Regions from separate parts of the Homo sapiens genome. Here region 2 is linked to region 1. Evidence: fine-mapped expression QTL. Tissue or cell type: whole blood. Region 1 holds a variant in brackets; the other region holds the start of a gene. All regions are shown on one strand. Distances are between the middles of the regions.

Region 1 (8,181 bases):
GGAGTCTATATACAGTACAGATATATCTGTAGTGAAACATATTTCACATTTTAGCCAATCCATTGTTCTTTTTATTGAAAACAGGTTCCTGGATCTCATACCATGGAATAGCTCAGTAGATGAAAGAACGATATTGAGGCTAGAATTTTAAAAAAGACCTCTCCAAGCCTTGATTAAGAAAGAGGGAGATTCAGTGGAAGGGGAAAGTAGCTAAGAACATTAGTTATTAATTACAAGGATAACAGGCCGGGCGTGGTGGCTCACGCCTGTAATCCCAGCACTTTGGGAGGCTGAGGCAGGCAGGTCACCTGAGGTCAAGAGTGTGAGACCAGCTCGGTCAACATGGTGAAACCCTGTCTCTACCAAAAATACAAAAATTAGCCAGGCGTGGTGGCACATGTCTATAATTCCAGCTACTCGGGAGGCTGAGGCATGAGAATTGCTTAAACCCAGGAAGCGGAGGTTGCAGTGAGCTGAGATCGTGCCACTGCACTCCAGCCTTGGTGACACAGTGAGACTCTGTTTCAAAAAACAAAACAAACAAACAAAAAAAACAAAAATTACAAAGGTGACAAAGTCAGGCCCAAACATATTCTGTCTGGGCCTGACTCAGAGAATCAGCCTGTGAAATCACACAGCCCAGAGGGCCAGGACCTGTCCCTGTAATTTCCTACTAAGAGCAAAGCATGAGCAGTTGATGTATTTCACCATAATTACGCATGCAAGAGTATATGTGGTGTGCATACAATGAGAATATTTTTTTCAAATCCAAACTCAGGACACATGGTCTGACAAAGGAGTTCTAAAGAATTTTTCATTTTTAACATAATAAAACAGACAAATCTATTATGTGTGTGTATATATATCTGTATACATATATATAAATAAATATATTTCATACGGCATACCATTGCCAAGTGTTTGGTAGAACTTGGGAAAACTTCTGAGGCTGAATCTGGGCTCAACAAGAAGAATGCTGTGTTGAATAGTGTTGTCTGATAGGCACCCAGGAGGAGAAATCGGCAGCCCACATAGCTCACATTTGCCATCGCTAGACAAGGAACTTGTCAGTGTCATAAAACACATATTAAACCACATTACATATGAAACCACATGTATCATTTCCATTAATGGTATGGTGAGAACGGAATAGGTGTTCTCAATAGAGATGCAACTCTTAAAAAATTGGGAGTAGAAGATCACAATGAATCATCAAAAAATGCAGAGGTTTCAGGTAAAAACTAAACAGATGAGGCAAGCCACACATGTTTATTCTTTGACATTATAAAGTATGTGTACATCATAAAAAAATCACCTTTCTTAATAAAACAAAGTCAGAATTTTCAAGGTGAACGCTAAAAAGAGAATCTCCCAGGTGAGGCAGAGAAGCCAGGCTGAGAAGTTCTCCCTCTGTTCCCCTGAGAGTCACTTCAGCTTTGGCTTCTCATCGACCCTTGCGGCTACCTCCACACCCACCATGGGAGGCTTCCCCAGCTGTGGCCTAAGGGCCCTCCTGGGAGACTCCAAGGCGCAGCTGAGACAAAGCTGAGGGTTCAAAAAGACCTTACCAAAGGCTGATGGATTACAAAGAAGAAATAAAAAGCTAGACCATAATTTGAGGATACCTCAAATTAAGTGAACCCCTAGATGTTCATGGACTCCAGGTTAAAAAAATCTGATATGCATAGGTATATTTTAGATTTATATGCAAAGTGATTTAAATCTTTATTTCCCAAAGTAAAATAATACTTTATGCAAAGGGTCAAACCTACTTCTTGCCAAAAAATTACCTTTTTGGGATTTTTATATGATTTTAAAGTAAGTAAACATTTGGTCTTTTCCCTCTTCAGTTTTATCTATAGACCATGCTAAAAAACAAAACAAAACAAAACAAAAAACCAAGAACAGAGGAACAAGAAGAGCTACTTGATGTAAAGAAGTGACTGAAAGAAAAGTTCAGAGAAGAATTTAGGAATTTGAGAGAACTTGAAAAACATGATCCAGAAAAAAAGAGGCAAAAAGTAAATGTATTTTAAGAATTATACTTGGCCCACATTCCATTGTTTTACATTTGAGGATTTTTCAGATTAAAAAACATATATTTATTATAGACAAATTGGAACCTATAGAAAAATATAATCAAGAAAATGTAAATCACCTAATAATGTCATCACTCAGATCAACACTATTATTATGTTGGTTAACAAATTTTTAAATATAAATAAAACAAAATTTGTGATCATCCTCAATTATTATTATTTTGTTAATGTTGTTATCATTATGTCATGAACATTTCAACAGATCATTAATTAGATTTTTGACATGAATTTTAATATCCACCTAAGATTTTATCAAATGGATATATTATAATTTAACAATTCCCCCAAACTGGTAAATTATTACCAGTTATTCACTATTATATTTACTATGTTTAAGACTTTAATGGATATACTTAAATATTTATTCATTTATTTCCTTCAGGCAAAACATAATTGTGACTATCTTTAGGAATATTTTTAAAACCGCTCTCCAGAAACTTACACCAATTTACCTTATTACTAACAGTACATATGCACATCAGCGTTAGCTTTCGCCCTGGCCTATGTTGGGTGTATTGGTTATCTATTGCTGCGTAAAAAATTACCTAGAAGTTTGCCAGCCTAAAACAATAAACGTTTATTTTCTCATGGTTTCTGGAGGTCAGGAATTTGGGCTGGGAGTCTCTGGCCCGGAGCTCTCATGAGACTGCAAGTTCAGCTGCTTGCCAGGGCTGTAATCACCTCCCAGTTCACATGGGGGAGGATCTACTTCCAAGCTCACTCATTGGCTATCATCCAGATGTTATCAGGTCTTCGCCATGTGGGCCTCTCCACGGCGCAGCTCACAGCATAGCAGCTGGCTTCCCTCAGATTAACAGAATGAGAGAGAGTGCCCGAGGAGGAAGCACCAGTCTTTTTAGAACCTCATTTTGGAAGTAATATTCCATCAATTTGTCATATTCTATTTGTCAGAGCAAGTTACTACGTCCGGCCCATATTCCAGGGAAGGGGATTACACAAGGAAGGGCATGAATACCAACAGATGGGATCACTGCGGCCGTTTAGAAGCTGCCTATCATAGTATATTACCTATCAAAGTACCCTTATTTCAAAATTAAGCTTTGCCAAAAGTAGTAACTCAATTTTATTTTACTTTTTTCATATTTGATTGCCTGTACAGTTGACCATATTATTTATTTACTAATAAGCTAATATTTGTCTAGTAAGTTTTTTGTTTTGTTTTGTTTTTTGTTTTTTTTTTGAGACGGAGTCTTGCTCTGTTGCCCAGGCTGGAGTGCAGTGGTGCGATCTCGGCTCACTGCAAGCTC[T/C]GCCTCCCGGGTTCACCCCATTCTCCTGCCTCAGCCTCCCGAGTAGCTGGGACTACAGGCGCCTGCCACCACGACTGGCTATTTTTTTGTATTTTTAGTAGAGACGGGGTTTCACCGTGTTAGCCAGGATGGTCTCGATCTCCTGACCTCGTGATCCGCCCGCCTTGGCCTCCCAAAGTGCTGGGATTACAGGCGTGAGCCACCGCGCCCGGCCCTTATCTAGTAAGATTTCTTACAACAAATAGACATTTGTTGGCTCACAGTTCTGGAGGCTGAGAAGTCCAGTGTCAAGGCACCAGCATCTGGCAATGGGCTTCTTGCAGCATCATAACATGGCTGAAGGGTGAAAGGGTGAGAGAAAGAGAGAGAGAGAAAGAGAGAGACTGTAAGAGCTGGCAAACCCATTCCCATGATAATGAACCCATTCCCACAATAACAGCTTTAGTAACCTAACTACCTCTTAAAGTTCCCACTTCTCAATACCATCACAATGACAAATTTCACCATGAGTTTTGGAGTGGATGTTTGTTAAACAATAGTATAATATAATATTTATTGAACATTTACTATGAGCCAGGTATTGAGTTAAGCATTTTGTATGCATTTTCTAATGTAATCTTCCCCATGATCCAATAAGGTAGGCACTTTCATTATCAAAACCATTTTACACATGAGGAAACTGAGGCACGGGATTAAAGTTATCAAATGTTATATAACTGGTGAGGGAGCTCCACAGTCTGTGCTCTTAACCATTATCTTACATGCGTCTTATGCTCATGTGTGTATTTGTGCTTTTACACATATGTATATGTGCATAAACAATATAGACAATTGTGTTTTAAAACTACATATAAATGATATCACGTTGTACAAATATTTTTGCAATTTTCTTTTTTCACTGAGCGTTGGTTTTGAGATTTATCCGTGTTGATAGATGCAGGCACATTTAGTCATTTTAACAGTCTTGTGGAATTCCATTGTGTGAATGAACCACAGTTTAGCCATTTTCCACTGAGGGGAGGTTAGTTTCATTTTTTTCACAGTGAGATAAAATGCTACACTGAACAGCTTTCCGTATGTCTTTTGGGGCACATTTGCATGACTTTCTCTAGAATAGATAACTCAAATGGATTTTTTGGCTACTGGGGCTTGTGTCTCTCCAAAATGAATGTGCCCATTTATTTACCAGCAATGTGTAAAAATTCCCGTATTGTATGTCTCTGACATGGTTTGGATCTGTGTCCCTGCCCAAACCTCATGTCAAATTGTAATCCCCAATGTTGGAGGTAGGACCCGGTGGGAGGTGATTGGATCATGGGGGCAGTTTAGTACCATCCCCCTTGGAACTGCTGTCGCGATAGTGAGTTCTCACGAGATTTGGTTGTTTAAAAGTGTGCAGCCTCTTCCTCCTCTCGCTCTTCCTCCTGATCCAGCCATGTAAGATGCTCTTGCTGCCTCTCTGCCTTCTGCCATGATTGTAAGTTTCCTGAGGCCTTCCCAGAAGCCGAGCAGAAGCTGCCACGCTTCCTGTACATCCTGTGGAACTGTGAGCCAATTAAACCTCTTTTCTTTGTCAATCACCCAGTCTCAGGTATTTCTTTATAGCAGTATGAGAATGGACTAATAAAATCTCTAGCTGTATTAGTTTGCTAGGGCTGTCAAAACGAAGTATCACTAGCTGGGTAGCTTAAACAGCAGAAATGTATTTGCTACAATTCTGGTGGCTGCAAGTCAAAGATCAAGGTGTCACTGGAGTTGGTTTTCTTCTGCGGCCTCTCTCCTTGGCTTGCAGGTGTCCATCTTTTTGTGTCTTTACATGGTCTTCCTTCTGTGTGCATTGTGTCTTAATTTCTTCTTCTTAAAAAACACGAGTCAGATTAGATTAGAACCCCTCCCTAATAACCATATTTTATTTCACATTAATTAACTCTATCCAAATGTATTTATTTATAGAGACAAGGTCTCACTATGTTGCCCAGGCTGGTCTTGACCTCCTGGCCTCAAGCAATCCTCCTACTTCAGTCTCCCAAAGTGCTGGGATTACAGGCATGAGTCACCATGCCTGGCCTTAATTATCTCTTCAAAGACTCTATATTCAAATACAGTTACATTCTGAGGTGCTGGGGGCTAGAACTTCAACATATGAATGTTGAGGGAATACAATTTAGCCCACTCACACTTGTCAACACTTGGGCTTATCAGTCTTAATAATTTTTATCTGTGAAAGTTGACGGACTCAAAATTGGAGTCACTTGTGTTAAAAATCCTGACAAATAGGGCTGGGGAAGACCATGGAAGGGAGGTCTCTCACAAATGCCCAGGTGTTTGAGACGAGCCTGGGTGACATAGGGAGACCCTGTTTACAAAAACAAAATAAAACCACCTCCCACTCCCCAAACTTTGTCAACTAGCAATGGCTGTTTGCTCTCTCTCTGTGGTTGAAAAGAAAGATTTTCTTTCAGTCCTGAAGAAGTTGGCCTGGCAGCTGAAAGAATATTTTGATGATTTCCTGAAGAGAGGAAACCTTATAAACAGTCCAACTGGCATTAGTTATTTGGATTTCCTGAGAAACTTCCAGGGTCACAGCAATGACAGGGATCATGTACCATATTCTCTCAATGCCCACACACAGGTTACTGCCTGCCCCTCTAGACTGGGAATGCCATTCTTCTAATCCACTGAGTCCTACCAGTCCCAGTGAGAAATGTTCAGGGAGGCTCAGCTCCTTCGATTCCTTCCGTGTGTGGTGCTGTCTTCCCGGAGACCCTATGCTAACGGACAAGGGGTATCCTGGTCCACGGATGGTCCATGAGCAGTCGACCTCTAGGAACAAAAGTGCTATAGGAATGAAATTACTCCATGTTGTTACCAAAATTATTGGTATTATTGTTAAAATTCCTTTTTTTAAAAAATTTTGAGACAGTCTGGCTTTGTCACCCAGGCTGCAGTGCAGTGGCAATGTTAGCTCATTGAAACCTCCAATTTCCAGATTCAAGCGATTCTCCTGCCTCAGCCTCCCGAGTAGGTAGGATTACAGATGTGTGCCACCAGACCTGGCTAATTTTTGTATTTTTAGTAGAGATGGGGGTTTTGCCATTCTGGCCAGGCTGGTCTCGAACTCCTGGCCTCAGGTGATCTGCCCACCTTAGCCTCTCAAAGTGCTGGGATTACAGGCATGAGCCACCAGGCCTGACCTGAAATCACTTTCATGTAAGAACCAGTCTGCTTTCCCTAGCTGAGGAGGTTACTGCTGTGTATAGGAGGAGAGGTACTGATTCAGTATGACTCATTTCCCCTGGACAGCTCCTTCATTTTCCCCAGTGCCACACTGTATTTTTAGCTTTGGCCTTCTACAGCGCTTGACCTTTTGCCTGGATAGAACAATGTGCTATGTAGTGCAAACCCACAGCCTTCCCTGCCCCATGCAACATAGGGGATGAATATATTAGATTATGCCTTCTTTGGCAGATCTGCAATTTAGGTAGGACAAAGCAATACTGCTTATACACACACACACACACACACACACACACACACACACTCCTTTGGTAACATTGCCGCCACCTCTTCTGCCATCTGATGCAAGAGATTAGTATAATCTTAATATTTATGAAAATATTTATAAAATGTGGACAAGAATCCTTGTACCAAAATATTAATTCTACTCATTCTAGACTAAGAAACAGAAACAACCTTTAAAAATAGAAGAGTAGTTAAATAAATCATGGATTATCCATACAATGAAATGCCAAGCAGGTATTAAAAATGATTACAATGAATTTTTAATGAAATGGGAAAACCCTAAATATGAAATATTAAGTAAAAAGTCTTAAGCCAAAAACTATAAATACAACATTATTAACAACAGGCTATGCCCGTGCTTGTCTCACCGAGCCCACTGTCACAGCCTCAACCAGCAGTGAGCCCCTTCAATCCATCCTCCACATTGAAGCCAGAGAGGTCTTCTTAAATTGAATCTAACCTTGTCCACTCTACACTCAGGCTCTCTAGTGACTCTCCTACTGATGTTCAGACTCATTGACATGGGTTCCAGGGTAGCAGAGGGCTCTGGAACCCATGTCAAGGAGCCTACCCGCAGGAAGATGTTCAGGCTCACTGACATGGGTTCCAGAGCCCTCTGCTATCCTGGTCCTGGCACCGCCTCAGCATATGTGGGTGTCCTATTCCCCCATCTTAAGCAGCGTGCTTTATATTGCCTAGACTTTTGCACATGTTCCGAACAGAAAGTCCGTGCCTTCTTTTTGTCTTCATATCTTCTTCTCAGGTGGTCCGAGTGCAGTCACAACCAGTTAAGGATTTCTTTGTTCCTTCTCCACTCCCACTGCTTCACTTGACTAGCCGAAAAAAACAAAAAAAAGACATCTTCTTCTCATCCTTCAAATCTCAGATTAGCCCTCATTTCCTCAGGAATGCTTTCCTCATCTCCACCAGGATCTCCTCACCCCTTCTCCATGCTTTTATTCCTCTCTGCGTGTCCCCTTACAGTAGAACCTATTGCCTATTTTTTTTTTTTTTTGGGGGGACAGAGTCTTGTTCTGTCACCCAGGCTGGAGTGCAGTGGCATGATCTCAGCGCACTGCAACCTCCGCCTCCCGGGTTCAAGCAATTCTCCTGTCTCAGCCGCCTGAGTAGCTGGGATTACAGGCACGTGCCACCATGCCTGGCTAATTTTTGTATTTTTAGTAGAGATTGGGTTTCACCATGTTGGTCAGGCTGGTCTCGAACTCCTGACCTTGTGATCCACTCACCTTGGCCTCCCAAAGTGCTGGGAGTACAGGCATGAGCCACTGCGC
Region 2 (8,181 bases), 28 kb before region 1:
TTTTTTTATGGAGGACCGAACTGAGGCCGAGCCTCAGATGATCCTGCACGAGGTTATGCAGTCTAAATAAAAGGCTGTAACTATTCGTTGAAACATACGAAACTGCTAACATTGGACTGTTTTTGACTTTTAAAGTGGCAATTTCGTATGGTTCAACCTATAGAAGCCAAAACTTTCTCTGGCACAACAGATTGCTTCAGGCCATCTCTACCCAGCTAAACACCCCATCCCACTAACACCTGTAACTAGGAGGGAAGCAAGAGTTCTTTGTAAGAAGTAGCTAACTACTTCTTTTCCCTAGCTTTTGCACCCAGGCTCTAAGGGAAGAGGGCCTAGGGTCTCTATAATGCTGGATACCTAGTTAAATTCACATCTAAATGTCTTACTATTCATGTTCTTATCATCTCTAATAAAATGGAAAATACTTTTCCCTAATAGGATAGTTGAGAACGTTAGGGGGAATTAATACCATCTTTCTTCCCTAAGTCCTTATCAAATAATTTTGAAAATTAATTTCCAGTAAGGAAGACTGAAAGGAGCCCTGTAAAATGTTCTCCTCGGGCAAAACCAAACAAGTTTAGATGAGTAGAGCACAAGCTTACCCCCTTTCCGGCCGGACTGCATCATCATTCTACGACGAACAGTGTCAAAGGGGTAGGACACCAGCCCTGCGACTGCCGTCACACTCTGGGCAATCATCCAGCTCACAAAAATGTGCACGTTCTTGGGGTCAGGCAGCATCCCTGTGGACAGAGCCCAGAAGCCGAACGGCTATGAAGTGCCTGTTCTCAGCAGAAAGCAGGTGGAGGGAGAGAGGCCACTGCACCTCCAGCTCCATGCTCTGACCTTGCGGGGAACCTGCCCCTGTGCAGGTGCTTCACATATGACCAGGCAGACAGCAAAGGTGGCTGCTGCCCTCTCCGGACCCCGGAGGGGCAGTGCTCAGCTTGTATACAGGGCATTGGAAGTGGCTTCAAGTTAAACTCAGTAACTGCTATGGCTGTGTCTAGAGGGAGACAGGCTCCCCCCTCCTCCTCTCTGAATAACTAAAGGCCAGAGTTTATTTCAGTAGAGGACACAAGGAACGCTTCAGCTATTAACTTATGCACATCACCTCCTCATTCAGAAGCCTCAATTATCCCAGAGACTAGAAAAAACAAGATCAATATATATCAGGTCCTTTGTGAGTTATAGATCCCATAGGATCCTCTTTCCACACCACCCTCCTTCTCCCCGATGCCCCTCTCTCACCCTTGGCAGTATCATAGACTCCGAAGTAGGCAGCTCTATAGATAATGATGCCTTGGACAGAGACGTTGAAACCCTGGTAGAGCCCCCTCAGGCCATCAGACTTGAAGATCTTGATGATACAGTCGCCCAGACCATGGAACTCACGCTGGGCGGCGCCCTTGCCCACATCAGCAGCCAACCTGGTCCTAGCAAAGTCCAGCGGGTAGACAAAGCAAAGGGAGGTGGCCCCAGCGGCCCCACCGGACGCCAGGTTACCAGCAAAGTAGCGCCAGAACTGCTTATGCCGATCCACACCCCCTAAGAAGAGCTGCTTGTACTTGTCCTTGAAGGCGAAGTTGAGAGCTTGGGTGGGGAAGTAACGGATCACGTTGGCCAGGTTACCCCTCCAGAAGGAGAGGAAGCCCTGCTCCTTAGGGATTCTCACCACACAATCAATGATCCCTTTGTACTGCTTCTCAGCACTGATCTGTTTGCTGGCATGCTGGACCTGGTGGAGGGGAGGGTGGGTGACAGAGGACAGGCAGGGTAGAGAGAAGGGAAGAGGACAGGAGAAAAAAAAAGGTTTGCACTTCCTAGATTTTTTTTTTGAAGAAAAAAAGGATGAGGAAATCAAATGGATACTGAGGACGTGTAAATGGATACTGTTATCCATGTTAGTTACTGGATAACAAGCCAAAATAATCCAATGTTGCTTCAATTATTAGGGTATTTGAGGGAAAAGGTATTGCCCCAAATAAACTGAAAAGGTGATTGAATTATATAAAGCTATAGCCATTTATTTATTTCACTTTCCCTAGGTTTGAGAACTGTATGAGGGGCTTACTGGGGGACAGAAATGAGTAACACTCCCTGCTTCAAAGGGCTTTGGATTTAATAGACATGATGGCCAAAAAATGACAATTTCTCAGTGTCACTCTGATCACCCTGGAGATGAGGATCTCTACTAGATGCTCTAATAGAGGAAGGAGAATAAATCCACTAAACATTAGGCCTCCAAAGTTTTCAAGCAGATAATCCAAGTAATCAATTATTAAGGGTTTGCTGCCGTTGTGAGCAATTTGTGGGGGTTTTGTTGTTAGTAATTCTGACTCCCAAATTGGGCTCTTCCTCATTGAGGGGCCCTGACCTTTTGGGCAGGTGGAGGAAAACACGAGAGGATGATAAACCATTCAGCGACCAGGTAGGGGAGGAAAAGATTTGGAGACAGGATGATCTGAGTTTATTCCGAAAATTGTTTCTTAATATTTCAAAACCTCAGCTTCATCTGTAAAATGGAGAAGAATAACTCTCTCACAGAGGTTACATAAAGATGAAGGCGTCAGCCTACATACAGCATTGTGCATGAGATACGATAAGGGAATTCTTGGGTGATGATTATTTTGATGTTTTTATTGTAAAGGTGCGTGCGCATAAGACGGTGCCAAAAATACTGGCAATCACTAGGTGCCTCCGGGCCTGAGTGCACGCCCGTGCTGTCACGGGCGCAGGATCTGGCACACGTAAACCGGCTCCGGGTGGGTTTCCATATATAGACACCCGAACGCCGGGCGCCACCCGACACCAGGAATCTGCGACTGACGCTGGACCTGTCTCTACGCAGAGGGCACCTTCTTCCCCCGCGGGCGGGCGGGCGGGCGGGCGGGCGCCCGGGCCTGTGGCCTGGCGCAGATTTTCCGCGGCGCCCCGCGCCCTGCAGCTCGCGCCGCATCGCGCGCCCCGCCCGGCCCGCCGCGCCCGCGCCCGCCTCTTGCACCGCGCGGTCCTCACCTGCAGCAGCAGTTTGACCCTCTCGATGGGGGCGACCGCGGTCTTGGAGACGGCAGCGGCGACGCCCCCGGCCAGGAAGTCCTTTAGGAAGCTCCAAGCGTGATCACCCATGGTGACAGCTCGACGCTCTCAGCCCGCAGGCAGCCCGTTCGTGCTCTCGCCCACGCCCGGCCTGGCACCGCCGCGCAGTCCCCGACCCTGCGCGACGCTAGGGGGCCGCCGCCTGGCCCGCAGCTCCCCCTTATATCCCCGCCGGGCTCTCGCGAGAGGAGGCGGGTCGCGGCCGGCGCTCGCGCCGCGCATTGGCTGGGCAGGTGCGGGGCGCCCCCTCCTCCCAGCTGCAGAGGGCATCGGGGGCGAAGGCGCTTCCGGGAGCGAGGCTGGGCCGGGGGCTGTCCCTGCAACTTGGGACGTTTAAAGGGCACATTCATGTTATCTGTCCCGCCGAGCCCAGGGAACACCGTGTCACCGCGGCATGTGGGCCGCGTATTTATAGCACAGGCAGCCTTAGGCCGGGGCGAAGCCGGGGCAGACACCGGGCCGCTGCCGCCGGTGGAGAGTTCTTGACCCTCCGGCCTGCACGGGCCGCGCTCAGGCCCAGGGATTTCGAGCTGTTTCCTCCTTCTTGCATCTAAAGGCGCCCCCCACCAGAGCTCACTGCCTGGATATGGGCCTCTTTAGAGCCGTGCGCTCCCGAGAATAAATGGCAGTCCTCTCAAATAGATACTAAGGTCACCTGATGCTGTGATTGCCTCATAGAATCTGACAACCTGCTGCCTCTCATTTCTTTTCATTCAATCGTTCGTTCAGTCATTCATTCTGCTATTACATATTGATGTGTCTGGCACTCAGTGCCCACAGGAAAGACCTGGTGCAGGGGGCCACTAGGTGAATTCATACTTGTTTCTGCAAAACTCTGTGACTCTAAAACACAGGACACTTCTTTTGTAAGCCCCTAAAGGGTTCAATGTACCACTCTGCTCTCAGCGGAATTTCAGCACATATTAGGGCAGAATGTTCTGTCTGTCAGCCGGTGCCTTCTTGAGGGTCAGTGCTGTCAGCCTTCCGGAGATCCAGTCCTTGGCTGTATTTGCCTCTTTTTAATGACAGCTGGGGTTGAGGAAATGCTATTTAATCCCAGGAAATTAATTGCAATTAATTTCTTAAAATATATAAATCTGAGCTTTAATTTTCCTTAGCTTGTTTTTTAGGCAGTTCATGTAACCATACAGGTTTTCAAATACAACTGTTCCTTCCCCTAGAATGACTGCAATTCGTTTTTAACTTTAAACTCTTCACTCAATTATCTTCCCATGTTTGCTAATTTTCATTTGTACCTTTAACAAAGTTTATTCATTGTTTTATAAACTTTTTTTTTTTAATATTTGCTGACATCATGTTAGAGGTTTACGGAGCTGCAGCTGCGTGTCACCCTGGGCGTGGAGACTTTGGTATAGCAGAAGTCACTAAGGTTCCAGGGCCACAGAGGGCATGCGTTTATCTAAGAGTGGGGCAGGCTAGAGTTCCGAAATCCAGGTAAGCAGAATGAAAGCTAGAAACTAGTGGAAAGCTGCCAGAGGTCAGAGCAGACAGAAGTCAAGAACTCGGAAGAGACAAACAGATAAACCATGTATGTGTTCATTCAACAGACTCTTGCTGAGCATGTACTGTGTACCAAGAACTAGGTGTAGCCCTGTGGATTGAATATAAGTAGACGTGGCCCATCTCCAAAGACCTTACAGTTCAGTGTATTCGTCACTTGCTCCACTTTATCAAAACTTCACTTACTGATTTCCATGGATCAGCATAATCCACACAGTAAACCTTTTTAATTATAATAGTGTACTGTATCCCATCCTGTAATATAGAGCACTTGCTTTTATACCTCCATTTTCCTTTTAATTGTGCATTAGAATTGTGTCTTATTTTTATGATGAAAAATAGGCCGGGTGTGGTGGCTCATACCTTTGGGAGGCTGAGGCTGGCAGATTACCTAGGTCAGGAGTTCGAGACCAGCCTGGCCAACATGGCAAAACCCCATCTCTACTAAAAATACAAAAATTAGCCTGGCGTGATGGCTCATGCCTGGAATCCCAGCAGCTCAGGAGGCTCAGGCACGAGACCCCCGAGAGGCAGAGGTCATGGTGATCTGAGATCACTCCACTGCACTTCAGCCTGGGCAACAGAGAAAGACTCTGACTCAAAAAAAAAAAAAGAAAGAAAGAAAGAAAGAAAGGAAGGAAGGAAGGAAGGAAGGAAGGAAGGAAGGAAAACTAATACTGCTACATTGAAACTTACACAAACTTCATTTTCTCCTCTAAGTTTTTTCTTCTCATATATTTCCCAAATGGAATGGATAGATTTAAGATTTTTAAAGTTTTGTAGCTTTTGCTACATATTGACAAATTGCTCTTCAGAAATACCAACCCACCAGTTATATAGATGGGCTTTCTCTCACACTCTTCTCCAACACTGGCTTTAAAAAAATAGAGAGTTGGTTATTTGTGAGTTATTTATGAGTTTTAGTTTGTATTTACTTAATTACTATGAAGCTGTATATATTCCATATGATTCAATTTAATTTGACAGTTTGACAAGGTTTCCCTTTTGTATAAACTTTTAATCTTCCTTGACTACTGCTGGAGTGAAAGCAGAGTATTTATATTAACAACAATTCTTTATATATTTGGGACAATAAATATGTGTTGAATGTTTTTCATTTTGTTGTTTTCCTTTTGATATTTATTATATCATTCTATTAGTGTTATGAACAGATCTATGGTATGATGATGATCTATTTCATGTTCTGATGTAAATGTATCTCTTTTATAGATATAGCAGTCTATTTACTCTAGTACATATATCAGTTTTTTTCTTCTACTTTGAGTAGCTATTTTTAAAATGTCTAACACTACGTTTTATATTGTATGGAGGTATGGGTCTAATTTCACTTTTCTCCATATCATGCTTGGGTATCCCAATACTAATTCTTAAGTAGATATTTTCTTCTCTCCATTATTTGTCTTATATTACTAAGTCTAGTTTGTCATATATTAAGTTCTCATAATAGCTTTAATTTATGAAATATCCACACTATGACATATTTATTTGATCTTCATTTTTTAAAAATAGGCTGATATATGATTCTACAATCACTTAAAAAATAAAGTTTTATCTGCTTATGTGTCTGGATTTATTTTTACTATCAAGTTGTTCAATTGTTTAAACATCACCAGAAGATTTTAAATAGACATTTAAACTAAATTAAATATTAATTAATATATGAATTCAGGAAGTAGTATCATCTTTGTTACACTTAATTTTACCAATCAGAGTTTTGGATATTTTCTAAATGGGAGATATATTTCTCCTTGGCTACTCTCCAGTTATCCTGTTCTATAGAAGGAGTCATAGCTGGAATCCTTGACAAGAGGTTTTCCATGGAAACTCATACACTGTCCTCTGCTTCCACGGACTTTCTCAGAAAAGAGAGGCCTTACATGCCCTCGGGAGCATGAGCTGCCTGTGGTCACAAGATCCTGGTATCACTTACACAGGCAGGGGAGAGAATGGCGCTCGGCAGAACATGTGTCCACCCGCCCAACCCAGTACTTAGTGGCTTTCTTCCAGCAGGAGAATGGACAAGGCATCTAGGAGATGAGAAGAAACTCTACTTTCAATCGTGGATGGGATCTTAGATGCTGGTGGGAACAGGGCCATGTAGAAATGAGAGCAGGGTGGAAAGTTAGCCTTTTGGAATTTTAGTGGAAGCTCTTATAGACTTAGTCTCTTACCAAACTGGGAATAGAGAATGGAAGTTGCTAAAGAGTAAGAGTGACAAGGAATAAAGAAAAACAATAAAGGATGTGCTAATGGTGGTGATAACATAATGCCTGTGTGCAAGTGTACATTTAAAGTATTAGGAATTAGAACACACTACTAGTGTTTGTTCACATGGTAAGTTTCAGCATTAAGCGAAGAGGATCAAGATATTTATATGTGCATTTATTTATTTATTTATTTTAGAGACAGCATCTTGCTTTGTCACCCTGGCTGGAGCACGGTGGCACAATCACAGATCACTGAAACCATGCACTCCTAGGCACAAGGGATCCTCCTGCTTCAGCCTCCTGAGTAGCTGAGGCTACAGGCACATACCATCATGCCCGGATATATATATTTTTTAATTTGCAGGTTTTGCTGTGGTCTCCTGGTTTTGCTATGTTGCCCAGGCTATGTGGAGAAGCTTACATGCCAGGAACAGACATAGCTGTGGTGCCTACAGGCAATTCCAACGCAGCCTGGCAAGGACAAGGACCCAAGAGGGGGTTCTGGTTGTACTTCCAGCAGAGTGACTTTCAGTGTGTTGCCTCCACCGGAACTTGTACTTTTTACGTTTTATGAATGTTCGTGAAACAAAAAGTTTTGTTAGAAGGATTTGGCGCCTTATTATTTAAAGGAGGTGATTTGAGGGGGCAGAGGAGCCCTTGAATCATAGAAAAGACAGAGGGACTTCTCCTAGAAGGCACTCTGCTTCCGGGGGAAACTGATTCAGGTTGGCCTCTTGGTTGCTGGAGGCAGGGAGGCCTGGGGGACCCCCGTAGCACACCCCTGATAGACACAGGCGGACCCCGTGCACTTCCCAGACAGATTCAGAACCTTTCTTTTCCCACTTCCAATCTTAGCACCTCTCTTTACTTTGTTGAAGAGTCCAACAAGCACATTGAGTATCATACAACACAACGAAGCTAATGTTTATGCTTGCATAATAATGCCTTCCGACCATAACCACACACCTTCCAGGCTGGCATCTTCCAGTTTTGCCCACGGGCAACCTCTGTGAATAAAACCGTTACTCACCTGGAGCTGACTGGGTCCATTTTCTAAACACATTTTGAACTAGTGTTTTGTGTTTCACATATCCTATCAATCATTTTTAAAAACATGCTTTATTTCTATTATTAAAATCAGTAGGCAACAAATGTTATCAGAGACTATTTTTTATCATCTGTACTACTGAAGAACAATATTTTGCTATTTTAATGAATAAGGGTTTTCTTCCATATGCGTTCTTTTACCTCATGACCCTTTCCTCATAGTCAGCTAGACGTTCTGTGTCACTGCCACAGGAAAAAGAAAACATTCAGGAAGCAGAGGAAGTAA

The links. PIP is the estimated chance that this variant, and not a neighbour inherited with it, causes the effect.
Region 2: it holds the start of SLC25A4, and the variant in region 1 is fine-mapped to the expression of SLC25A4 in whole blood (INTERVAL, PIP above 0.99).

The regions. Positions count from the first base shown.
Region 1 is chr4:185,110,768-185,118,948 of GRCh38, reverse strand. No RefSeq gene overlaps it. Among named protein-coding and RNA genes, the nearest start is that of SLC25A4, 28 kb to the left of the region's middle. RefSeq lists an enhancer at 2,680-2,974. The variant T/C (reference allele first, on the strand shown) is at 3,368.
Region 2 is chr4:185,138,321-185,146,501 of GRCh38, reverse strand. SLC25A4 (solute carrier family 25 member 4) reads right to left here and starts at 3,236. Exons shown (of 4, transcript NM_001151.4): 1 at 3,019-3,236; 2 at 1,252-1,738; 3 at 603-743. The coding sequence starts at 3,129. RefSeq lists a silencer at 3,165-3,464.